Linked DNA regions of Homo sapiens. The protein of the gene in region 4 purifies or fractionates together with the protein of the main gene of each other region. This does not show direct contact. Each region holds a gene or a part of one and is shown on either strand. Other genes may lie near its edges.

What was found.
Region 1: the proteins of SH3GL2 (region 4) and DRD3 purify together in Homo sapiens (pull-down; one study listed by IntAct). This does not show direct contact.
Region 2: the proteins of SH3GL2 (region 4) and HRH3 purify together in Homo sapiens (pull-down; one study listed by IntAct). This does not show direct contact.
Region 3: the proteins of SH3GL2 (region 4) and CHRM2 purify together in Homo sapiens (pull-down; one study listed by IntAct). This does not show direct contact.
Region 5: the proteins of SH3GL2 (region 4) and DNM3 purify together in Homo sapiens (affinity purification with western blotting, with the first as the bait; one study listed by BioGRID). This does not show direct contact.
Region 6: the proteins of SH3GL2 (region 4) and HRH1 purify together in Homo sapiens (pull-down; one study listed by IntAct). This does not show direct contact.
Region 7: the proteins of SH3GL2 (region 4) and ADRB3 purify together in Homo sapiens (pull-down; one study listed by IntAct). This does not show direct contact.

Annotation. Positions count from the first base shown.
Region 1 is NC_000003.12:114,169,053-114,172,552, forward strand, and holds part of DRD3 (D(3) dopamine receptor), read right to left. Parts: intron 2,976-3,500; 5' UTR 2,941-2,975; coding exon 2,671-2,940; intron 1-2,670. UniProt on the Homo sapiens protein: Dopamine receptor whose activity is mediated by G proteins which inhibit adenylyl cyclase. Promotes cell proliferation.
Region 2 is NC_000020.11:62,214,460-62,217,278, reverse strand, and holds the end of HRH3 (histamine H3 receptor), read left to right. Parts: intron 1-352; coding exon 353-1,273; 3' UTR 1,274-1,872; coding exon of another isoform or gene 1,873-1,900; 3' UTR 1,901-2,319; downstream 2,320-2,819. UniProt on the Homo sapiens protein: The H3 subclass of histamine receptors could mediate the histamine signals in CNS and peripheral nervous system. Signals through the inhibition of adenylate cyclase and displays high constitutive activity (spontaneous activity in the absence of agonist).
Region 3 is NC_000007.14:137,011,652-137,015,151, reverse strand, and holds part of CHRM2 (muscarinic acetylcholine receptor M2), read right to left. Parts: intron 333-3,500; 5' UTR 287-332; coding exon 1-286. UniProt on the Homo sapiens protein: The muscarinic acetylcholine receptor mediates various cellular responses, including inhibition of adenylate cyclase, breakdown of phosphoinositides and modulation of potassium channels through the action of G proteins.
Region 4 is NC_000009.12:17,585,566-17,589,065, reverse strand, and holds part of SH3GL2 (endophilin-A1), read right to left. Parts: intron 1-3,500. UniProt on the Homo sapiens protein: Implicated in synaptic vesicle endocytosis. May recruit other proteins to membranes with high curvature. Required for BDNF-dependent dendrite outgrowth.
Region 5 is NC_000001.11:172,386,998-172,390,497, forward strand, and holds part of DNM3 (dynamin-3), read left to right. Parts: intron 1-135; coding exon 136-362; intron 363-1,575; coding exon 1,576-1,812; intron 1,813-3,500. UniProt on the Homo sapiens protein: Microtubule-associated force-producing protein involved in producing microtubule bundles and able to bind and hydrolyze GTP. Most probably involved in vesicular trafficking processes, in particular endocytosis.
Region 6 is NC_000003.12:11,255,493-11,258,992, reverse strand, and holds part of HRH1 (histamine H1 receptor), read right to left. Parts: intron 1-3,500. UniProt on the Homo sapiens protein: G-protein-coupled receptor for histamine, a biogenic amine that functions as an immune modulator and a neurotransmitter.
Region 7 is NC_000008.11:37,963,800-37,967,998, forward strand, and holds the start of ADRB3 (beta-3 adrenergic receptor), read right to left. Parts: upstream 2,801-4,199; 5' UTR 2,671-2,800; coding exon 1,466-2,670; intron 441-1,465; coding exon 419-440; 3' UTR 1-418. UniProt on the Homo sapiens protein: Beta-adrenergic receptors mediate the catecholamine-induced activation of adenylate cyclase through the action of G proteins. Beta-3 is involved in the regulation of lipolysis and thermogenesis.

The DNA.
Region 1 (3,500 bases), on a different chromosome or scaffold from region 4:
TAGGTATAATTAAGTAATTAGTAGAGTAGCTACTCAAACTGTACTATCATTAGGACAAGTTAGTGAGAATAATACTTTGCTTCTTCTTGAGGAACATGGATTTATGTATTCATAGCCCATATTTTAAGGGCTCAAAGTGCTCTTTTCTTTCATTAAGGTGCCTCATTTGCCTCTAAGGAAAGATAGGAAAACATTTGAGATTAAGAAAAGTATAGACTGATGTAAGATGGAGAGACTTGGTCCTCTGTATTCTTCACTGGCTTTAGGGCCTCTTTTTGGTCTTACCAACTCGCTTCAAGACATTGACTGGGTCTTGAAGCAAATTGGTAAGACCAAAAAGAGGTCCTAAAGCCAGTGAGGAGACGTCTCTGCTCCCCTGAATCTTCCTTGTGTGAATATAGATTTTAAAAATCATGCTCTTATTGCTTCTCAGCCTTTTGGTTAAGATCAAATGTAAAAATTATGATCTTGATCACTGAATACCTACATGAAATAACCTGTTGGACAGAGGGCATAGTATTATGGTTTTTATGGGGAGAAACCAAAAACTTCATCAGAGCTGTTCTCATGGAAGAAAACCTATATGTACTACTACAGTGATTTCTTTAAGGCCTTTGGCAAGATTTCCTGTCATTTTCTATAGTCTCACCTGCCCTTCTATGCTCAGTAGTAGAATAGGAGCACCAGTATATCAGAAGGTATGGCTAGAAGGGGTGCCATGGATTTCTAGTGTGGAAAAGTCACAATGTCTATCTCCTAAACCAGTACATACAGATGTTTTCCAGTATGGTCCAACCAGAGTCCTAGAAATAATCACAAATACATAGCCAACAAATGCCCCTGAGTGGCTTTGTTACAGACACCAAAAGCCTGGTTTTATCTTAGAGGGAATAAAAATGCTCATTAGAGTGAAGGTCCACTGCCTACATTTCTTCCTGCCATTCATCCTTCTGGAGGACTTAACATTCCTTGGAACACATAGAAATGGACAAAAACATTTTAGGAAGATGATGACAGTGCTATGAGTTATTGACCAATTCATATTGGCTGGTTGCACCTAAAGCGCCTCATTCTTGAACAGAAATATCACATGCTTCGAAATTTTTTCAGGCTCATTATTGTTGGATGTAAAATAACAAATAGCTCGTCCCCAAAAGTCCTCTCCCCAAAAAGTCTGAGTGTAACAATAGATAGAGAGGCAGATGGTATTAGCAGGAATAGCCCATATAATGCATACATTACAGAGAAGATTCATTTCATCATTCATATATCAAATGTTATAGCAGTTAGCATGTATTTTGTGCCAGGTAGTATGTTTAGGCTACAGGAGATGAAGAGTAAAGATCTAGTCTCTGACTTCAAGGTTGACTCAGACTAATTGGGTTGACAGAAAAATCAAGATAATTATAAGACCCTTCACCCTCCCAACTAGGATTATCCTAACTGGGAAGAATAAATGCATATTTTTTCCTCAAGTATTCCCTTAGCCTTTAGATCTACACAGCCTAGTTGTTTTTCTTCTTTTCCTTTTATTTCTCTGTTTTCTTTTTTTCTCTCTTTATGTCTCCCCCTTGAGATCATAAGTCTAATTTTAGTTCCCAGCCATCTTTAACAAAGGTATTAGCACAGGCAGTCTATGTACAAGGTTTTTGCTCTCCCGTGATATGTCATACTTAATTAACTGTCACTTTTACTATCAATATTAACTGAGATATTAATTTGATGAATCTTAATTTCTCTTAATCATAGCATCATTTTGATCCTTCATTGGATACCTCTTTAAAATGACACACAGTGCAGAGGAGAAATATTAATAGTATACTCAGGTTTTTTTAAAAAAACATATCTTAAGTAATTGCATGTTTTCCTGGTAAGAATATCTGTTTCTTGAACAGATATGGTCACCCTGATTTCTTTGTTAGCAAATGGGTGTTTTGTCTTGACCACCCCCTGGCTCTGTTTTGCACTCCCAATTGAAAATACTTTCAAATTTAATAAATGTTTCTCCCCAAAAGAATTCACCAGGATCTGCTGCACTATCTCTCTGGCAAAGGCTCTGTACTATTCATGGACACATGGAAAATATACATTTGAGGGTTTTGTCTGTTCCTTTGGTAGCAGAGTCTATGGAGAACTGGTACCCAGGAGGAAAGAGCAAAGAGGGACTGAGCCATCGAAAGAAGTCTGATCTGTTCGCTGGTCATTCTTTCTATCTTCCCTTACATTCACTAATTTTTTTTTTCTATAATTCCTTTTTCCTCCTGGCCTCACATCCCTCCTGCACACCCTCACCCTCATATACATTAAACACTGGTGAAGAGGTCTTCTGGACTGCTTCACCCAGCCCACCATGTCATTGAGACATGTCTGGCACAGAGAATAAACTCTAGGCCATATTAGGAAGAGTCCCGTCACTCAAATCCAGTCACCTGAACACTGGAGACCCATGAACAGAATCATTCTCAGCTCCTTGGTTCTGATGTGGATGAGGGACAGGATGGTGACTGTTTTCCAGAGCTTTAACTCTCTCATTACAGGGAGAATGAGAGCTCTCCTTCCTTCCTCAGTTCCTGACTGTCTGGGGAGTCTTTTGAGCCCCAAAGGCCAGAACTCAGGGAAGACAAGTACTAGCACAGTCATAGAGACAACATGCACCTGAAGTCTACTCACCTCCAGGTATACCACCCAGGGCATCACCAAGGTGGCCACCAGCAAGTCTGCCACAGCCAGGCTCACTACTAAGTAGTTGGTGGTAGTCTGCAGGGCCCGCTCCTTCAGCACAGCCATGCACACCAGGCCATTGCCGAAGACGATGGCCAGGATGAGCGCGCAGTAGGAGAGGGCATAGTAGGCATGTGGGCGGGCCTGGCTGGCACCTGTGGAGTTCTCTGCCCCACAGGTGTAGTTCAGGTGGCCACTCAGCTGGCTCAGAGATGCCATAGCCCAGAGGGAGGTGCGTGATGCCAAGGGGCTTCCTGTGAGGAGACAGAAAACAATATTAATAAAATCAGACTCTTTGGGGCTTGGTTGCTTAGTTACATTTTTTTATTTATTGCATCAGCAAATATTTATTGAGCATTTTCTATATAGTAGGCACTGTTGTGAGAGTTGGAGATAGAGCAATGAACAAAACAGATAAAATCTTAATTCCTTCCCTTTGAAGCTCCCATTCTAGAGGAGAAGACAGATAATAAACAAGATAAATAAAAGATGTGGTGTGTTCAATAATGATACGTATATTGGAGACAAATCAGAGAGGCAGGTAAGTAACGGGTGAAGATTGTGCGTATGTGAGTGAGTATCTGAGTATAATCAGGAACTCCTCATGGAGAAATCAGCAATTGAGTCTTGACCTGGAGGAGATCAGGAAGCAGACCATGCAGTTATCAGATGTGATAGCAGTCTGAGCAGTGAGAACAACACGGGCCAGCAGGAAGGGCTAGCACATAGAAGTCATAGGAGGGAGTCTGGTGAGGCTGGAGCCAAGTGAGGCAGGAGTA
Region 2 (2,819 bases), on a different chromosome or scaffold from region 4:
TCTGGGGCTGATGCTGAGTCTGGTCCCAAGGGTGCAGGGGCCAAGGACAGGACCCCCAGGGAGCTCACAGCTGGTAGGGGGTGGTAAACAGGCAGCCTAGCAGAGAGTGAGGGTTCAGGTTGGTCCCAGGGAGCTTCTGAGGCTCTCACTGAGTGTGGCAGGGCACCAGTCCGGGACCCCAGTGGGGAGGGTTAGAGGAAGGGAGGGGAAAGAGGGAGGGAGGGAGGACAGGAGGGGAAAGGAGGAGCATTGCTGCTGAGGGAAGGGCCCACATAGGGGCCCACAGGCTACGGGGGCGCACCCAGCCCAATATTCCTTCCGCCCCGCCCCTGACCAGCCTGCCCTTCTGCAGGTCTCATACCGGGCCCAGCAGGGTGACACGCGGCGGGCAGTGCGGAAGATGCTGCTGGTGTGGGTGCTGGCCTTCCTGCTGTACGGACCAGCCATCCTGAGCTGGGAGTACCTGTCCGGGGGCAGCTCCATCCCCGAGGGCCACTGCTATGCCGAGTTCTTCTACAACTGGTACTTCCTCATCACGGCTTCCACCCTGGAGTTCTTTACGCCCTTCCTCAGCGTCACCTTCTTTAACCTCAGCATCTACCTGAACATCCAGAGGCGCACCCGCCTCCGGCTGGATGGGGCTCGAGAGGCAGCCGGCCCCGAGCCCCCTCCCGAGGCCCAGCCCTCACCACCCCCACCGCCTGGCTGCTGGGGCTGCTGGCAGAAGGGGCACGGGGAGGCCATGCCGCTGCACAGGTATGGGGTGGGTGAGGCGGCCGTAGGCGCTGAGGCCGGGGAGGCGACCCTCGGGGGTGGCGGTGGGGGCGGCTCCGTGGCTTCACCCACCTCCAGCTCCGGCAGCTCCTCGAGGGGCACTGAGAGGCCGCGCTCACTCAAGAGGGGCTCCAAGCCGTCGGCGTCCTCGGCCTCGCTGGAGAAGCGCATGAAGATGGTGTCCCAGAGCTTCACCCAGCGCTTTCGGCTGTCTCGGGACAGGAAAGTGGCCAAGTCGCTGGCCGTCATCGTGAGCATCTTTGGGCTCTGCTGGGCCCCATACACGCTGCTGATGATCATCCGGGCCGCCTGCCATGGCCACTGCGTCCCTGACTACTGGTACGAAACCTCCTTCTGGCTCCTGTGGGCCAACTCGGCTGTCAACCCTGTCCTCTACCCTCTGTGCCACCACAGCTTCCGCCGGGCCTTCACCAAGCTGCTCTGCCCCCAGAAGCTCAAAATCCAGCCCCACAGCTCCCTGGAGCACTGCTGGAAGTGAGTGGCCCACCAGAGCCTCCCTCAGCCACGCCTCTCTCAGCCCAGGTCTCCTGGGCATCTGGCCCTGCTGCCCCCTACCCGGCTCGTTCCCCCAGGGGTGAGCCCCGCCGTGTCTGTGGCCCTCTCTTAATGCCACGGCAGCCACCCTGCCATGGAGGCGCCTTCCTGGGTTGGCCAGAGGGCCCCTCACTGGCTGGACTGGAGGCTGGGTGGCCGGCCCTGCCCCCCACATTCTGGCTCCACCGGGAGGGACAGTCTGGAGGTCCCAGACATGCTGCCCACCCCCTGCTGGTGCCCACCCTTCGCAGTTACTGGTTGGTGTTCTTCCCAAAGCAAGCACCTGGGTGTGCTCCAGGCTTCCTGCCCTAGCAGTTTGCCTCTGCACGTGCACACACCTGCACACCCCTGCACACACCTGCACACCGTCCCTCTCCCCGGACAAGCCCAGGACACTGCCTTTGCTGCCTTCTGTCTCTTGCATAAGCCTCAGGCCTGGCCCTTTCACCCCTCTTCCCACCAACTCTCTCTGCCCCCAAAAGTGTCAAGGGGCCCTAGGAACCTCGAAGCTGTTCTCTGCTTTTCCATTCTGGGTGTTTTCAGAAAGATGAAGAAGAAAACATGTCTGTGAACTTGATGTTCCTGGGATGTTTAATCAAGAGAGACAAAATTGCTGAGGAGCTCAGGGCTGGATTGGCAGGTGTGGGCTCCCACGCCCTCCTCCCTCCGCTAAGGCTTCCGGCTGAGCTGTGCCAGCTGCTTCTGCCCACCCCGCCTCTGGGCTCACACCAGCCCTGGTGGCCAAGCCTGCCCCGGCCACTCTGTTTGCTCACCCAGGACCTCTGGGGGTTGTTGGGAGGAGGGGGCCCGGCTGGGCCCGAGGGTCCCAAGGCGTGCAGGGGCGGTCCAGAGGAGGTGCCCGGGCAGGGGCCGCTTCGCCATGTGCTGTGCACCCGTGCCACGCGCTCTGCATGCTCCTCTGCCTGTGCCCGCTGCGCTGCCCTGCAAACCGTGAGGTCACAATAAAGTGTATTTTTTTATTGGTGCTGATTCCTGAGGACTTTGTGGGGTGCTCAGAGCCTTCGTGCTTTGAGGAGAGACTCCAGGGAGTCCAGAAACCACTGAGAAGCAGGCGTGAGGATGAGGGCTCTGTGTTTTCTTCTAAGTCGGGGGACTGCAGTGGGGATGAAAGACCAGCCTGCCACACCAGGGTTTAATCCCAAGAAGGGTTTCATGTGCCCTACCGCCAGACCCCTGCACTTCTCAAGACCTGGCTGGCGGGTGAGGAGATGCAGCCCACGCCCTGCACAGGAGGGGCCCGCTCTGGCCCTGAGAACACAGACATGCAGCCTTCCTGCCCCCAGGACAGGTGCCTCATCTTTCTTGGTCAGGAGCAGGGTTGCACCCCAGCAAAACTTGGGACCCAGGGAGGATCATGGCCATGCCCAGCGTGTGCAGGGTCTGGGTGGCAAAGGGACTGCAGTGACCAGAGGGGAGGGATTGGGCTAGCTGGCTGGAGCTAGGCTGGAGGGGCTGCTAGAAGGGATGAG
Region 3 (3,500 bases), on a different chromosome or scaffold from region 4:
ACACCACAGGTCCCAAAGGCCAGTAACCAATCACAGTGTAGAGGGTGTACAAGTTCATGGAGAAAACACCTATGATAAGGTCAGCACAGGCCAAGCTGAATAAAAAGTAATTGTTGACGGTCTGGAGGTGGCGGTTGACTTTAATGGAAACCATGACTAGGATGTTCCCGATAATGGTCACCAAACTGAGGGATCCAGCCACCAGGACAATAAACACCACTTCAAATGTCTTATAAGGACTTGTAAGAGCCAGGCTATTGTTAGAGGAGTTTGTTGAGTTATTCATTTTGCGTTCTCTAATCAGTAGCCAAGTAGCAAATAAACATTTAAACCTGCAAGGAAATAGAATAAAATTAACAAACATAATATAAACATTGGTTTAAAATACATAATGTTGTTTCTCCTTTTAAACCACATTATTTTCTCCCAAATCTCCCTTCCCCTGCATGATTACTGTGTCTACCTGCCTCAATTCCCCATGTAAAAAGCAAGACCTTCAAATGGAGGATTCAAAAGGACCTTTCAGGCTGGCAATGAACTTGAAGTCCAGTAATGTTTTAAATATGTCCTTATCCAGATATGAGTATCTATCTACCTACCTATCTACCTATATATCTCATCAATCCATGAAACTTAGCATAATACTGATAAATTGAATTAAATAAACCAAAATTACAAACAACACTTTCTAAAACATCAAGGGATTCCTGGAATAGACATAAAAATTAGTAAATTAGTGAGAGGACACAATTATAGAAGAAAGCATAGAATGTATAATATTGAATGTGTGACTTTTATAGTTAACAGTGCCTTTCCTCATGGAAGCTCTAAGCCTTTTTCACAATAACACTGAGGATGGTGAAAATAAAGATAATATAATAATACTTAATAGCCAGTATACTCTCCCTAGATGAGAATTATTTTCCTCTTGCCTCTATTTTATTTCATACTTGTAATCAGTATTACATAATCAGCATTTCCAATATTCCATATCTTACACAAGAATATTTGCTTATTAAATGCATATTGAACTGAAAAAGCCAAAATTATGCATAAGACTTTCCAAAGCATAAAGAGATTTCTGGAATAGACATACAAATTAATACATCAATAAGAAGACAAAATTATGGGAGAAAATACCACTTTTCTGAATGTTTTGTTTTTCAAACCACTATCAAATCTATTATCTTACTATTCTTTCTGCCAAACTTTTTGTTTTGTAGAAGGAACTAAGGCTCAGAAAGATGAAATCCCAGTTTGTTCAGTCATTCATTCTTTCACTTTGTGCTCACATATCTATTGAGCAGCTTCTCTTAATTAGGTGTTCTGGACGTTCAATGATGATTAAAACAAGGTCTCTGCCTGGTGGCAGACATGGGTTGATGAAGAAGCAATTATTAAACCTGAATGCACTTCTTGTTTCCCTATCCTGTTGTGTGTAAGTAAACACATAATCATCATTTTTGAGATAATATCATTGAAGTCTGATGACAATTGAGTGATCTTTCATAATGGAAAATGTATATTGGGGATTTAGAAAAGAAAGTTAAGAATTCATCAAAGAGATATGACACATTTCTGGAGAAACAGCATCTGAAGCAGAAACTAGCCCAAGTTCCACCTCTTTTTGAAAAAATTGCTGTGAGCTGTCAGAAAATAAGCATTGCTGAGAAATTAAAATTTGGGAATATTGATTAGTTTGGATGCTATTAATTACAAAGAAATGGGCAGTGGTTTGCCCTTGAAATCCATGTAGAAAATAATTTGGTAAGCAACTTCATAACACAAATAACATTTAAAAAAATAATTTTTTCTGCTTTGGAAAGTCAATTGTTTTCCAGTATTTTATTTGACAAAACCCAAATAATGGGATTTGGCCTTAATATAATAAGACCCAAAATTCAGAAGCCAGAAAGGAAAATATATGTAACTGTTGCATATTCCTTTAAAATTTTTGCATAGAGCAAAAAAGTCAAAATAACAATTGAGAAACAATATTTGTAAATTGCACGATAGAAAATTATCCAATGTCTTTAATATAATAGAGTTTTGGCAAAAAAGGAAAGATGAAAGATGAATAATCTAAAACATTGATGTAGTAGTTCAATCAAAGAAAAATTAGACATTAATGACTTTTAAACATATGAAATGATACTCAACCCCACAGTTTAAAGATGCAAATCCAGACAGTGAAAAACAATTTTCCATCCGTAGTATTAATGGTAGTGTTGAATACTTTTGGTGGGACTAGCGGGATAATCACCACGAAGGATAATGTATCTATATCTATAGAACTTTAAATCTGTATCTATAAAAATGTATTAAGAAACACTTGTCTCAGGAATGCCACATTTAGGAATGTGTCTTTCAGATAGAGTCATAAAAATGTACAAAGAGGTCTACTCAAGTATGTTCACTCAGAAATGTTGTTATAGCAAAAAAATCCCGAGATATATTAAAACTATTCATTGACAAGGGATTGGTTAAATATATTATGGAATACTCTTACAATGGAATATTATGCGGCTAGTAAAACAGGTAGATATTTGTGTCCTGGCATTGCTGTGGAAAGTTATATAGTTAGAAGATGACATAATCATAGTGAGACATAGATTATTACAGAATATAATTTTATTTAAGCAAAAAGGTGATTATATGTAATATTACATATGTATGCCTGCAGCTCATTGGGAAATATTGAAGAGTTTAATCAGGGAAATGATGTTAATGGAATGCAACTTAGATCAGTTGAATTATTTTAATCGGATTTCCCTTTGACAATCCTTTTTTGCAATTAATCATACAATTGTATATTCATGGTAATTTATTTGAACAAAAACATTTTATTATCCCAGTTCTTATTCCAACAATTTCTTAATAGCTCAGCTAACTGTAAGATCAGAATTGTGACTTGCTTATAAGCAGCATTTTCTCTGTTTATTAGATAAATTCATGGACAGTTTGGAGTTGAGCTATATGTGTATCTGTTTCATGAAATGTTAATATTAATTCACTTAGTTTGAAAAATACAAAAAATGAATGTATTGACTCTGCATTTTAATTATTCATAATTTTGATAAAGCATAGGACTTATATTCTAGTTTTTAAAAGATTTTTGATAATTTCCTCTGGAGAATAATGAATAACACTGATGTTGAAAAGTAGGGATTCAAAATCAACTAGTTTGATGAGGATCTAAATTGCTAAGGTCCAAAATCCCCAAAATTACAATCCTGAAAGATTAAAATTCTGAATGTTGAAATCCTGAAAGCTGAATTCTGGAAAAGGGGTTGGCATTTCACTTGCATGCAGGATGGTCTCATCACATTGGCCTGCATCATGTTAGGTGGAACCATCACCTTGTTACTGCTTTTATTTGGAAATAACATATAGTTTGAGGAGATGTATATGAACACTAGGCTGACAAGTGGTGGACTTGTGAACTTAATTTTAGGTGTCAACTTGGCAGAATTAAGGAATACCTAGAAACCTGATAAAAT
Region 4 (3,500 bases):
TACAAGCTCACAAATAGATTAATATACAGACACACAATTAATTAATTATAGGCACCAGTAATAGCAAAACTGCTAGCTTTTTAACCAAAAACCCACTTTTACATCCTGGGCACATAGCTAGGCTACACTTGCCTTCTTCCATTTCTCTTAGGTGTACCACAGAGGGGCCATGTTACAAGTTCCAGCCAACCAAACATAAACAGAAGGAACTATTCCTTCTCTTCATTTTCAGCTGTTGTATAACAAATTACCACAAATTTAGCAGCTTAAAACAATACCCATTTATTATCTTACAATTCTATAAATTAGAAGTCTGGGCCTGCTTAAGTGAGCTCCCTGTTGAGGGCCTCACAAGGCCAAAATGAAGGCGTTGGCTAGACTGGGCTCTTATCTGGAAGCTTGGGGGAAGAATTCCCTTCCTCTCAGATTCTTCAAGGCTGTGGGTCTAAGATCCCTATTTTCCCTGCTGATGGTCACCAAAGAGCTGATTTCTGCTCCTAGAGGCTGCCTGCATTACTACTCACATGGCCCCTCCCTCTTTAAACCAACAACAGCATGTCCAGTCCTGCTCATACTTCCAATCTCTCTGATTTTTCCTTCCACTACCAGCCAGAGAAAATATCCTGCTTTTAAAGGGCTCATGAGATTAGATTAAGTCCAATCATATAATCTCCCTTTTGTCTTACAAAGTTAAAAGTCTCAGGAATAACATCTTTTCAAATTGAACATTGCACCCACACTCAAAGGGGAGGAGAGTACACAAGAGCAAGAGTCACCAACAATCGTAGCATTCTGTCTACCATATTCCTCTTCCAGGCCTGGCTTATGAACATCTCCCATGCTTGTTCAAACATATTCTTTCCCTTTGGCAACCTTGAAAACCATATGTTACAGATGGCAGAACCGATCCAGGGTCATCCTGAGTCCCTGAAGCAAATAACGGGAAATATAAATGAAAAAGACTTTGAGCAACAAAGTACCATTAAGACTTCTTGGTTAAGCCAAAGTATCAGGCCCTCTTGTTAAGTTCAGAGTAACACAACCAAGTCTACTGGATGAAAATTAGGTCTAAAAAAGAATTTCCATCATAGAAATTGGCAAATGAAACTCACAAGAAAACACATCAGAAGCCTATTAAGTTGAAGTTTTTCTGGTTTTTTTTTTTTGGTTTTTGTTTTTTTGAGACAGTGACTTGCTCTACTGCTCAGGCTGGAGTGCAGTGGTGCAATCTGGCTCACTGCAACCTCTGCCTCCCAGGTTCAAGCAACTCTCCCAGGTTCAAGCTTCAGCCTCCCGAGTAGCTGGGACTACAGGCGTAGGCCACCATGCCTGGCTAATTTTTGTAGTTTTAGTAGAGAAGCGGCTTCACCATGTTGTCCAGGCTGGTCTTGAACCCCTGGCCTCAGGTGACCCGCCCACCTCGGCCTCCCAAAGTGCGGGGATTACAGGCATGAGCTACCGCACTTGGCCAGAAGCCTACTAAGTTTATGAAGAAATTTCATTACTCAAATCTACCATGGATAGTGAAAACCCTATGACTGTAAAACAATCCCCAAATTTAAATAAACAGGAAGTTGACTGAAAAGTTATGCCGTTCCCAAAGAGGGCAGATTTCCTCTAACCCTCCTTAGACCTGGCCAAATATATATAAGAAAGAACAAGAGTTCTTCCCAGATTGCAGAGCCAGATTGTAAAACCAAGGAACTTCCTCTACTGGCAGGCAGGGGATTTCACAATGCCCCCTGCAGGATGCCATCACTGTTATGGACAATAACTGTCCTGACTCCCCTTCTCTCCTTTCCTCACTGGAGTCATTCACTGTGGACATTATTTCCTGTACTTTTTGTTTTGTTTTGTTTTGTTTTTGAGACAGTCTCGCTCTGTCGCCCAGGCTGGAGTGCAACGGTGTGATCTTGGCTCACTGTAGCCTCCGCCTCCCAGGTGCAAGCAATTCTCCTGCCTCAGCCTCCTGAGTAGCCAGAAATACAGCTGTGCATCACCAAGCCTGGCTAATTTTCCCATTTTTAGTAGAGACGAGGTTTTGCCATGTTGGCCAAGCTGGTCTCAAACTCCTCAAGTGATCTGCCTGCCTCGACCTCCCAAAGTGCTGGGATTGCAGGCATGAGCCACCGCACCCAGCCGATTTCCTGTACGTTTAAAAGCATAGGCTATCTGCTTTATGTTTCTTTCAAGCATTATTCTGTGATACGGTTTGGCTGTGTCCCCACCCAAATCTCATCTTAAACTGTAGTTCCCACAATCCCCATGTGTCATGGGAGGGACCTGGTGGGAGGTAATTGAATCATAGGGGTGGTTACCGCCACACTGTTCTCGTGATAGTGAGTGAATTCTCACGAGAGCTGACGGTTTTATAAGGGGCTTTTACCCCACTTTGCTCTGTACTTCTCCTTGCTGCCGTCATGTGAAGGACATTTTTGATCCCCCTTCTGCCATGACTGTAAGTTTCCTGAGCCCTCCCTAGCCATGCAGAACTGTGAGTCAATTACACCTCTTTCCTTTATAAATTACCCAGTCTCGGGTATGCCTTTATTAGCAACATGAGAACAGACTAATACATAGCTTGATATTGAGATGTTTCTCAGCATTATAAAACTGCTTCCATTAGTATCTATGGGGAAAGGTTAGTTTGAATTATAAAAAAGATATTTCTATTTTTTATATATATCATAATTCAAAAAAAGGCAGAAAACACTGCCTAGAGGTCCTTCAGTGTCCTAAGTATCCAAGTAAACCTCCATGGAGCTGTGGGTTCTTCACGAGTATTACAGACAGCTTCTCCATATTCATTACTACTATATACAATTTGACCCAGGGGATGGCGGAGGGAGATTAGGGTAGAGCAACTACAACATCATATTTGGCATTTAGAAGTTGTACTAAATGTAAAACCTTTATAAATAGTGAAATTATTTCCTGAAGCATTTGTCATCAGCTAATGATTTAGTATAGCATGAAAATATTTTGTTGGTAGAATGCAAAAGACTTGGCAGGGTCTCACAATCATGGCATTTTAATAAGTATAGTTATAGCTCTCTTTAGTCTTTATTATCCATCGGATACCATGTACATCATTCTTAAGCTTTTAGGCTCCTTAAGTGATTATGGAAACAATAAATTCTAAACCAAAAACACTGAGAAGGGTTGTACTACAAAGTTTCAAAACTTCACATGTTGTCTCCTGCTGCCTCTTGCTGCCTCAACATTCATTCCCACATACGCTAACTGTGAACACCCCACCCAGGTAACCAGGTGCACAAGTTTGATAAGGTTGGCCCCTACCACAAGTTCACCTCTCTGTCTTCTTCTGACCACGACCTACCAATGCACCAATGCAACGCACTGTGAACTGCACTGAGCTGTGAACTGCACTGAGATCACTAGTAAAGGCACTTGCCCACAGTCCTTGCTCTCTCTGCTCCCACCTGTTTCCCACCTGCTTAGCTGATCCTGCTCTCAGAGCTGTCACCTCCACCCCACGT
Region 5 (3,500 bases), on a different chromosome or scaffold from region 4:
GCTTCACTTTTCCCAGGGTGGACTTTGGTGGACTTTGGTGGACTTTGTCCAGACTCTGACTGCCACAGCCATGTTTCTACCTCCACTCAGTCACTCATTTATTCCCATTTTTATTTCTCTGTGGTGATCTGACAGGTTAAAGATTTCATAAATTCCGAGCTCCTAGCACAGTTGTATTCTTCAGAGGACCAAAATACCCTGATGGAGGAATCTGCTGAGCAGGCTCAGCGCCGGGATGAGATGCTTCGAATGTATCAAGCACTGAAAGAAGCCCTTGGGATAATTGGGGACATCAGCACAGCCACCGTGTCCACTCCGGCACCCCCTCCAGTGGATGACTCCTGGATACAGCACTCTCGCAGGTAAGAAGATGGCCCCGGCCGGGTGCGGTGGCTCGCTCCTGTAATCCCAGCACTTTGAGAGGCCGAGGCGGGCGGATCACGAGGTCAGGAGATCGAGACCATCCTGGCGAACATAGTGAAACCCTGTCTCTACTAAAAACATAAAAAAAATTAGCCGGGCGTGGTGGCGGGTGCCTGTAGTCCCAGCTACTCGGGAGGCTGAGGCAGGAGAATGGTGTGAACCCGGGAGGCAGAGCTTGCAGTGAGCCGAGATCGTGCACTGCACTCCAGCCTGGGTGACAGAGCAAGACTCCGTCTCAAAAAAAAAAAAGAAGATGGACCCACCCACAACCCCTGAGCCCTGCCACGCTTGTCCAATATCATTTTCTGAGAGTGCTTTCCTAAACCAAGATGGACCTACAGAAAAAGGGGAAAAGATATTTACATTCAGGAGTAAGGATCAGATTATACTAACTCCCTTAAAAATGCAGCACAGTGCATCCTCACAATGGAATGTTATATAGTCACTAAAAAGAACAAGACAGTTCTATTAAGTCCTAAAATGAAAAGATAATCCAGTTAACGGGAAGCTTTAAAAAAAAGGGAGGTTGTATGCCAGGCGCGGTGGCTCACGCCTGTATTCCCAGCACTTTGGGAGGCCGAGGCAAGCGGATCACCTAAGGTCAGGAGTTTGAGACCAGGCTGGCCAACATAGTGAAACCCTGTCCCTACTAAAAATACAAAAATTAGCTGGGGGTGGTGGCGCACACCTGTGATCCCAGCTACTCGGGAGGCTGAGGCAGGAGAATCGCTTGAATTCAGGAGTCAGAGGTTGCAGTGAGCCGAGATCACGCCACTGCACTCCAGCCTGGGTGACAGAGCGAGACTCCGCCTCAAAGAAAAAAAAAAGGAGGTTGTAGAAGACTGTGTTCTATGGTATACAGAAAAGCAATTTATATATAGAGAGAGAAAATATATACTTATACAAATGTAGAATACAGTTAAAAAGGATGCACAAGAAACTTCTATAGTTGTTTCAACAGAGTGAAGGGGTAGGGAGAGGAAAACTTACTTTTCTCCATTTACCCTTTTATCCCTTTGACTTTCATGACATGAATTGGACTTATTCAGTCAAAAAATAATTTTTAAAAAGCAGGAAGTTACAAAACATTTTTAGAGATTAATTCAGACAGAAAGGAGGAGTGAGCAAACTATGATTTCTCTTTTTCCTCAGGTCACCTCCTCCAAGCCCCACAACCCAAAGGAGGCCAACACTAAGTGCTCCCCTCGCAAGGCCCACATCCGGCCGAGGACCAGCTCCTGCCATTCCCTCTCCTGGCCCCCACTCTGGGGCTCCTCCAGTCCCATTCCGTCCAGGCCCATTACCTCCTTTCCCCAGCAGCAGTGACTCCTTCGGAGCCCCTCCACAAGTTCCATCTAGGCCTACGAGGGCCCCGCCCAGTGTCCCAAGGTAAGGCATGGAGCAGAAATTGGGGGGGTAGTGCGCCTTGGTTCTCTTCTCATAGAATGACAGACAAAATTTATTTGAAAGAGAAAATTGCAAAGATCTTATCGTACGTGTTTGCAGTTTTCACAATGAACAGAGACTATAGGAAAATTGCCAACCCTGTTATGCCATTTAAAAATCACTTGTGATCATTGAAATTTCTCATTTATCAATTGGCACAGACTAAATAGGACTAAAGAACACTCCGTCCCAATGAATGACATTTTGGCAGCTATTGGGAGAATTTGAGGGCTTTGAAACAAAAGAGCTATGGAGGATTGTAGCAAGCTGTGTGTTCTATAGGTCATGAGAGTTCCATGGACTAAAGTCTTGCCTTCTCCATTATCAAAAGAATTCTTGAAAACCACTGACTTAGAGAATTTTATCCATCTGCCTTCTGAACTGTGATCCTTATACTCAATTTTACCAATTTTCATATAGGCTGAATAAATCTGGCTGATTGATCTGCAATTGTTTTTTTAAAAACTACACATAGAAATTTTAATATAGGCATGATTGTTGTATACAGTCACTAATCATATATAAGATAGATCATTGTACATCTGAATAATACGTGTTGACAATTATAAGTGGATTTTCAGGCTTAATTGTGAAACAATATAGCTAATAAATAATGGACCTAGAAACACACATAGTTGGAGCTGTAGTCTCACCTTCATATACTTACAGTCAAAATATACACAATGAATAGAATCAGAGATTTTTAAGGTATAAAGTACTAAGGTTTTTTTCCCCCTCAAAATCAGAAATATAAAGAGGAAAGAAAATTAGCCCATATATAAAGTTAATTTTTAAAAAATTCAATTCAGAGAATTAAAATATTTATATACTCCATGAAGGAATATCTGACTGTATATGAACCATAAAAACAGATGTGACTTCTACCCATCCCTGAAGCCTGAGCCACCTTGCCAACTGATTATGGCACTTACGTTTTATTTTAATCTTCAAGTTGTTAAGCGTAATGAAGAGAAGAGAAGAAGGGGGATCTTAAGCTAGTACACAGAGGGTGGTACAGCAAGAATAGGCAGGAGATTTGCAGTCAGAAGACCTGGGTTACTGAAGGTCTTGGGCAACTCATTTAACTCTGAGACGGGAGTTCTTTATCTATGAAACAGGGAGAACTCAATAAGGTTGTTCCCCAGATCATATGACATGAGGTATTTGAAAGAGTTTGATACACTGTAAAGACTACAGTTGTTACCACTGTTATCATTTTGGTCCTAAGCAAAGAGGATATATACACACTCTCAATCCAATTTTTTTTCTCTAAATTCAATAGACTTGGCTTATAAATTATTTGGAATGGTGCTAAATTTCTAGTAATAGCAGTACTAGCAATAGCCAACATTTATTGTGCCCTCAATATTACTAGGCATTGCCCTAAGAACTTTGTATATACATTTTTGTTTAAAGCTCACAACAAATAGGTTGTTATCCACATTTTACAGATGAGGCAGTGAGGTTAAACAGCTTGCCCAAGGCTGCTCAGCCAGTCCCTAGTGGAGCTGGACTTTAATCCCATGCAGTCTGCTTCCAAAGCCATTTCCTGACCATGACCCCAGGGTTTTTCAGCCTCATCAGTACTGACGTTTTTGTTGTGGAGGGCTGTCCTGTGTATTGTAAGATGT
Region 6 (3,500 bases), on a different chromosome or scaffold from region 4:
AGAGAGAAAAAGTAAGGTCAGAGACTTGGGTGATGAGTGGCCACTTAGTAGCATGATGTTCATCAGACTGGAGTTGTATGCTGTTGGGGGTGATCAACACTGCTGGTTACCTACTCAATAGCCATGTACCCTTTTCCTTATTCATGCATTCATTTGCTCACTTAACAACTATTTATTGAATTTCTGTCACTCTTCTAGGTGTTGAGAATATAGCTGTGAACAAAATAGACAAAAATGTTTGCCCCTATGGAATGTGCATTCTAGTGAGAGAGTTGGGCAGAAGCAAGACAAATGTGTTTGTAGAAATCTAATTCCGCACATGTTCTGGGAAGGTGGGCTGCATCCTCATGTGTCTAAGCAGAATATAGCAATCCAGTTCCTCTTTACAGTGGCAGATAGAGGAGTGACCATGAGATACCACCATGGCCAAGGAATAGGATGAGGATGTCAAACAGCAGAGGCGGAGTTTTTAGGAACGTTCTTCCTCTCTGACAAATGATCAAAACAACAAAAATTGTTGTTGCTCACTTGCCTCTTTCTCCCTGACAGGATGTGAGGAAGTGATGTTTGAGGCCATGAGAGTCATCTTGGGACCATCGGGAAGGCCAAGAAAATGCCAGCCTAGGGCCTTGCTGTCACTAAGCTGCTGAGCCAACTCTGGAATCTTCTTCTCCCAGACTTATTATTATGGGAAATAATTAAATGGGCTTTGTTTTGCTTGGCTTTGCTTTTTTTTTTTTTTTTTTTTTTGGCTTACATCACTGTTGTGGCAGTTCTTACTTGCAGCTGAGACCATCCCTAAATGATATGGAGGAGGTTATAAGGGGACACACCAGAGGCACATAAAGCATGAAATAAATCTAGCATATCTTTTTAGAGGAAAATTCTCAAGTGAGAAGGGGATTATGTTATTGGAAAAGCATATTCGTTATTTTACTTTTCTATTTGAAAAACAAACAATTTTTTTAAATTACATAAATCATGCCAAGTAATATGTAACAAGACCCTTGCTAGTAGGCTGGAAATGGTGGCTCACACCCATAATCCCAGCATTTTGGGAGTCTGAGGTGGGAGGATTGCTTGAGGGCAAGAGTTAAAGGTGGAATGATCACTTGAGGCCAAGACTTGCAGCCTGGGCAACACAGTGGAATCCTGTCTTTACAATGAAATTTTTTAAAAATTGTCCTATAATACACCTATAGTCCTAGCTACTCAGGAGGCTGCAGTCAGCTATGATCACATCACTGCACTCCAGCTTGGGTGACAGGGCAAGATCCTGTATCTGAAAAATAAAAATGAAAACCCTTTGCTACTAAGGCTCTACTGAAAACGGACTGTATCCTCTGTTATTGGTGATACTCAAGTCGGGTGGTTGGGTGAAAGTAAGTATTAAATCTTCTGGAAGGAGTTTTTAAGATTTTTTTTTTTTTTTTGAGATGGAGTCTCACTCTGTCACCCAGACTGGAGTGCAATGGCACCATCTTGGCTCACTACAATCTCCAGCTCCCAAATTCAAGTGATTCTCCTGCCTCAGCCTCCTGAGTAGCTGGGATTACAGGAGTGTGCCACCACACCCGGCTATTTTTTTTGTATTTTTTTAGTAGAGACGGGGTTTCACCATGTTGGTCAGGCTGGACTTGAACTCCTGACCTCAGGTGATCCACCCACGCTGGACTCCCAAAGTGCTGGGATTACAGGCATGAGGCACCACGCCCAGCCATTTTTTTTTTTTTTTTTTTTAGGACAGAGTCTCACTCTGTCGCCCAGGCTGGAGTGCAGTGGCACCATCTCAGCTCACTGCAACCTCTGCTTTCTGGGTTCAAGTGATTCTCATGCCTTAGCCTCCCGAGTAGCTACAATTACAGGCACCCACCACCACGCCCAGCTAATTTTTGTATTTTTAGTAGAGAAGGGGTTTCACCATGTTGGTCAGGCTGATCTTGAACTCCTGACCTCAGATGATCCGCCCACCTTGGCCTCCCAAAGTGCTGAGATTACAGGTGTGAGCCACTGCGCCCGGCCAAGTTTTTAGATTTTCATATTCATCAAAAAGTGGTGAGTTTAAAGAAAACTGATAAACACTAATAAATAGTAAATTTCTCTCAATAATTTAGCAAAAAGAAATTATTTTTACATTAAGACAAAGCCAGATAAGTTCTTGAGTAGAAGGCTAAATTTATTTATTTATTTATTTAGAGACGGAGTCTCGCTCTGTCGCCAGACTGGAGTGCAATGGCGCGATCTCGGTTCACTGCAACCTCTGCCTCCCAGGTTCAAGTAATTCTCCTGCCTCAGCCTCCTGAGTAGCTGGGATTACATGCGCCCACCACCACGCCCAGCTAATTTTTGTATTTTTAGTAGAGATGGGGTTTCACCATATCAGCCAGGATCCTTTTGATCTCCTGACCTCATGATCCACCCACCTCAGCCTCCCAAAGTGCTGGGATTATAGGTGTGAGCCACCGTGCCTGGCCTGTAGAAGGCTAAATTTATATAACTTTTTAAGATAAAAATCAAAACCCCAAGGTGTTTGATCCTTGTGGAAGGAACCTTTTAAATGTCTTTGTTGGAAAAACACCATTTTGGGCAGCACTGATTTTGCCCAAGCTCTACCATTTATTTTCTCAGTGATCTCTTGGCCTCCATCTTCTCATGTGTCAAATGGGTAGGGTGGGATAGACAATCTCTAAAGACTTTTCCAGGTCTCTTTCTTACAGCGGTATTTTTTGATGTCCTCCAGCTCTGAGGTGCCAATCAGAGCAATCCTCTGATTGCTGATGGGGCCTCCTCTGACTTCTTCAAAAGCATCACTGTCTCCTTGGGTGACCCAAAGTCCTGCCCTATGCTCCTGTCACTCTGTGCTGTCGGCCTCGGGGATCTCATCCTCTCACTTACCTACCCCTCAGCCATCACCTCCTATGAGGACAACACTCAAACCCACAGCTCCAGCCTGTATTTTTCTCCATTCCCACATCTAATACCTTGCAGCTTCACCTTCTGCCCTGATCAAGTCCAAACCCTGTGGAATTGTCCACAGTCACTTCTGGAAGGAAGAAAGTAGGCTGTGAAAGGAAAATAACTTGGGGCCCCAAAATCACTTAAGGTAAAGGGAAAAGTCAAGTTGGGAACTGCTTAGGGCAAACCCGCCTCCCATTCTGTTCGAAGTCAGACCTCTGCTCACTGAGATAAATGCATATCTGATTGCCTCTTTTGGAGAGGCTAATCAGAAACTCAAAAGAATGCAACCATCTGTCTCTTATCTTCCTAAGACCTGGAAGCCTCCTCCCGGCTTCCAGTTGTCCTGCCTTTCCCAGACCTAAGGAATGTTCATCTTGCATATATTGATTGATGTCTCATGTCTCCCTAGAATGTATAAAACCAAACTGTGCTCTGACCACTTTGGGCACATCGTCAGGACCTCCTGTTGCTGTGTCATGGGTGTGCGTCCTCAACCTTGGCAAAATAAACTTTCCAAATTAACTGAGACCTATCTCAGATTT
Region 7 (4,199 bases), on a different chromosome or scaffold from region 4:
GCTCTCAGCCTGGGCCACAGAGCCTGGAGAACACTAAGGTCTCATCAGGGTTTGGGTGGCAGAAGGAATGGAACCAGGGGAGCTCTCTTTGCCCTAAGCACTCACTGACTGCACAGGCAAGCCGGGTGATGGGTGCCCCTACCAAAGCCAGCCTGCTGCTCCACGGCACCTGGACACTACCACTGAGGGAGGAGTGAAGTTCAAGGCTGGGGTTTAGAAAACATCTCTCAGACAGAGAGCAAGAGGATGGTGAAAACCCACTTGGTAAGGATCCCTCCTTGGGTCACATGGCCCAGTCGTCAGGTTCTGGAGGGTAGAGTGTCACAGCCGGGGAATCCCATGGGACTCATTCTGAACAGAGGCCAGAGGTTTTCCACAGGTTCTGATCAACAGAGTTGTTGCTTCTTGTCCTTCAGGCCTAAGAAACTCCCCAAGAAGCCCTGGGAAAAAAAGTGGAGATAATAGACCCTGGGGTGAAAGGAGCAACAGGTGCACTGAGGGGAATGACAGAGATCAGAGACCCTGGAACGCATATTTAGTTACACAAAAACGCCAGGGCACCACCCAGCCACACACGCCCCACCCCATCCCTACTCCAACCCAGCCCAGGGAGCGGGAGGGCACACATCTGCACTCACAGGCTCCTCACTCACAACTGTACTTCATACCGGAAGTGGATTCTCACCTCCACAGCTGTCAAACCTTTGAGAAAACCCAGAACTGAGGCCGAGGGCTTGGGGGGCGGGTGGGGGGGCACTAGCCCTGCCTTCAAGTCCGAGCCAGGTCTAGTGATGGCAAGAAATCGGGGGAGGGGGGCAAAGAACTGAGCTGGAAAACCAAAACTAGAGCCGACCCGGCGCCCTGGCTCCGGCCTGTAATCCTAATGCTTTGGAAGGCTGAGGCAGAAGGATCACTTGAGGCCAGAAGTTCAAGACAAGCCTGGGCAACATAGCAAGACCCCATCTCTACAAGAAATTTTAAAAATAGCTGGGATTGGTGGGGCTCGCCTGTAGTCCCAGATACTCAGGAGGCTGAGGTGGGAGGATCGCTTGAGCCCAGGAGCCAGGAGTTCAAGACTGCAGTGAGCTGAGATCGCGCCACTGCATTCCCGCGTGGGCGACAGAGACGAAACCCTGTCTCTATTTAAAAAAAAAAAAAATCCCTAAAGCCGACCAGGCGAGGCGAGAGTCCTCGGGACACCGCAGCGCTTTCCGGTGGCGCACCTTGGGTCCTTGGGTGAGGAACGACGGCCCGCTCGCCCTCCTTTGCTTCTACCCTAGTGACTGGATCCGGAAAGAAAAGGACCCTGGGTCCCATTTTGGTTCGCTACTCCTCGTTCCCTTTTCTCTCCAAGCAAAGCCATCCCACCTTCTCTTAATAAACTCCACACTCAAAAAGTTGACCCACGGACACATCGCATGCTTCCCGACCCTGAGCCGCCGGTCCCTCTGCCCCGGTTACCTACCCGTCGAGCCGTTGGCAAAGCCTGGGCTGCGCTGGGCTGCTCCGGGCCGCAGGAACGCCCGAGGGGAAGAGGGCCGGGCGGGCGGCGGCGCAGGGCTCCGGAGGCAGGCGACGGCCGCAGCGGCACAGAAGACGGCGGAAGGCGCTGCGAAAGTCCGGGCTGCGGCAGTAGATGAGCGGGTTGAAGGCAGAATTGGCATAACCTAGCCAGTTCAGGGCAAGGAAAGCCGGGCCCGGGACTAGAGAGGGGCCCCCCAGGGCGCGCAGCACGTTGGCCAGAAAGAAGGGCAACCAGCAGAGAGTGAAGGTGCCCATGATGAGACCCAAGGTGCACAGGGCCCGGTGTTCCCGGAGAGGCAGGAGGCGCGCGGGCCGCCGGCCGCAGGCGGGCACCCCTTCGGGCGGAGCGCACGTCCCCACCGGGGCCGGGGCCAGAGAGCGCGACGGCGCCGGCGGAGACTCCTCGGGCGGAAAGCGGCCCAGCTCCCCGCGCAGCAAGCGCAGCTGGCGCGTAGCCACCACGAAAACCCGCGCGTAGACGAAGAGCATCACGAGAAGAGGAAGGTAGAAGGAGACGGAGGAGGACAGCAGCACGTAGGGCATGTTGGAGGCGAAGGCACAGCAGCGCGGGTTGGAGTGGCAGCGCTGCGCCTCGGCGTCGGCCCCTACGCGCCACCACTGGCTCATGATGGGCGCAAACGACACCGCGGCCGACACGACCCACACCAGGACCACAGCTGTCCGGGCGCAGCGCTTGGTGACCAGTGCGCCGTAACGCAGCGGGTTGGTCACAGCCAGGTAGCGGTCCACGGCCAGGGCGCACAGGGTTTCGATGCTGGCGGTCACACACAGCACGTCCACCGAGGTCCACAGCTCGCAGCCAGTGGCGCCCAACGGCCAGTGGCCAGTCAGCGCCAAGGTGGCCGCCGGCGGCACCACCAGGAGTCCCATCACCAGGTCGGCTGCGGCCAGCGAAGTCACGAACACGTTGGTCATGGTCTGGAGTCTCGGAGTCCAGGCGATGGCCACGATGACCAGCAGGTTGCCTCCCACGGTGGCCAGCACCGCCAGCGCCAGCAGGGCCCCGGCTAGGGCCGCCTCCCACGGAACCCCTGGCAGCCCACTGGTGTTGGCGGTATTGGGCGCCAGGGTGGGGAGGTCCGGCCATGGGGCAAGAGAGCTGTTCTCGTGAGGCCACGGAGCCATCCCCGGGTCGCGCGTGGGGCGGTAGGGAAAGAAGGAAGGAGGGGGTCTCCCAAATCACCTGGCTCAGGGGAGGGGACAGCAAGGCATGAGAGCGACTTCCCCAGCCTGGGCCATCTTCTCTAGCTGTCCCAGCCAGAGCGCTCAGCCTCCCCCCACCCCAACTCCCTCGGTGCCACCGCTCTTGGGGGAGGAGTAGCGACGCTTAAAGGGGCAGCTGCCTATAGTCTGGAGGGGCCTCTGGAGCCGAATTGGAGAGTGGGGAGGATGGCCAATGGGATGCTCCACGTTTCCTTTAGCTAAATCTGGAGGAAGGGACACCGTGGTTCCTCTGCCACCATCTGTCCACCCCTGCCGTGGCCAGGCTCCTGGACTCAGCATAGCACTCCCTGGGCACTGGCTTCCTGGAGCCCTGCACCTCCTTTCCCAGAAGTTCCCACAGCAAGGCAGGGGAAGGAGAGAGGAGAGCGCTCCCATCCCCACCCTTTATGTATCAGAGGCAAAGGTAACCCGCTGGAGTCAAGCAAAGGATTCACAGGAGCCCCGCATCCACTTGGGTGGCCTCCCCTAAGGTATTTTAAATTAAGTAATAGGGCTCAGCCAGTATCTCCTCTCCCAAGACCTCAGCTTGGTGAGATCTGTCCCCTTTCCCTTCTGTTTCAGTTACCTTCTCTTTCCTTCTAGCTTTTTGTTTTTTTTAATATTTTCAGGTACTGAGGAAATTTACCATATTTCAAGTCTCTCTCTCTCTCTATTTTTCCCAGGCTGGCTTTGAACTCCCGGGCTCAAGCCACCCTCCTGTCCCAGCCTCCTGAGTAGTTGGAATTGCAGGCGTGAACCACTAGGAGGCTCAGGAGTCTTTTTCTTTTTCTTTTCTTTTTTTTTTTTTTTTTGAGACGGCGTCTCGCTCTGTCACCCAGGCTGGAGGCTGGAGTGCAATGATGTGATGTCTGCTCACTGCAATCTCCACCTCCCGGGTTCAAGCGCTTCTCCTGCCTCAGCCTCCCAAGTAGCTGGGACTGCAGGCACCCGCCAGCATGCCCAACTAATTTTTATATTTTTAGTAGAGACGGGGTTTCACCATGTTGGCCAGGATGGTCTCGATCTCCTGACCTCGTGATCCGCCCGCCTCGGCCTCCCAAAGTGCTGGGATTACAGGCGTGAGCCATCGCGCCCGGCCAGGAGTCTTTTTCATTGCTAGCTCTGGATTTGCATTTGGATTTGGCACTATGTAGTCTGGGATGCTGAAGAATTTCAATTTCTCCATCTTCCCCACTCTGCACTGCCCCTTCCATGCACCTTTCCACCTAGAGATTTTCTAGATAGCCCCTTCTCTTAAAATCTTTCTGCTATAAAGACATATTAAAAATGGATGAATCAACAGGTGGGCGCGGTGGCTCACGCCTGTAATCCCAGCACTTTGGGAGGTCGAGGTGGGCAGATCACCTGAGGTCAGGAGTTCAAGACCAGCCTGAACAACAAGGAGAAACCCTGTCTCTACTAAAAATACAAAAAAAAAAAAAAAAAATTAG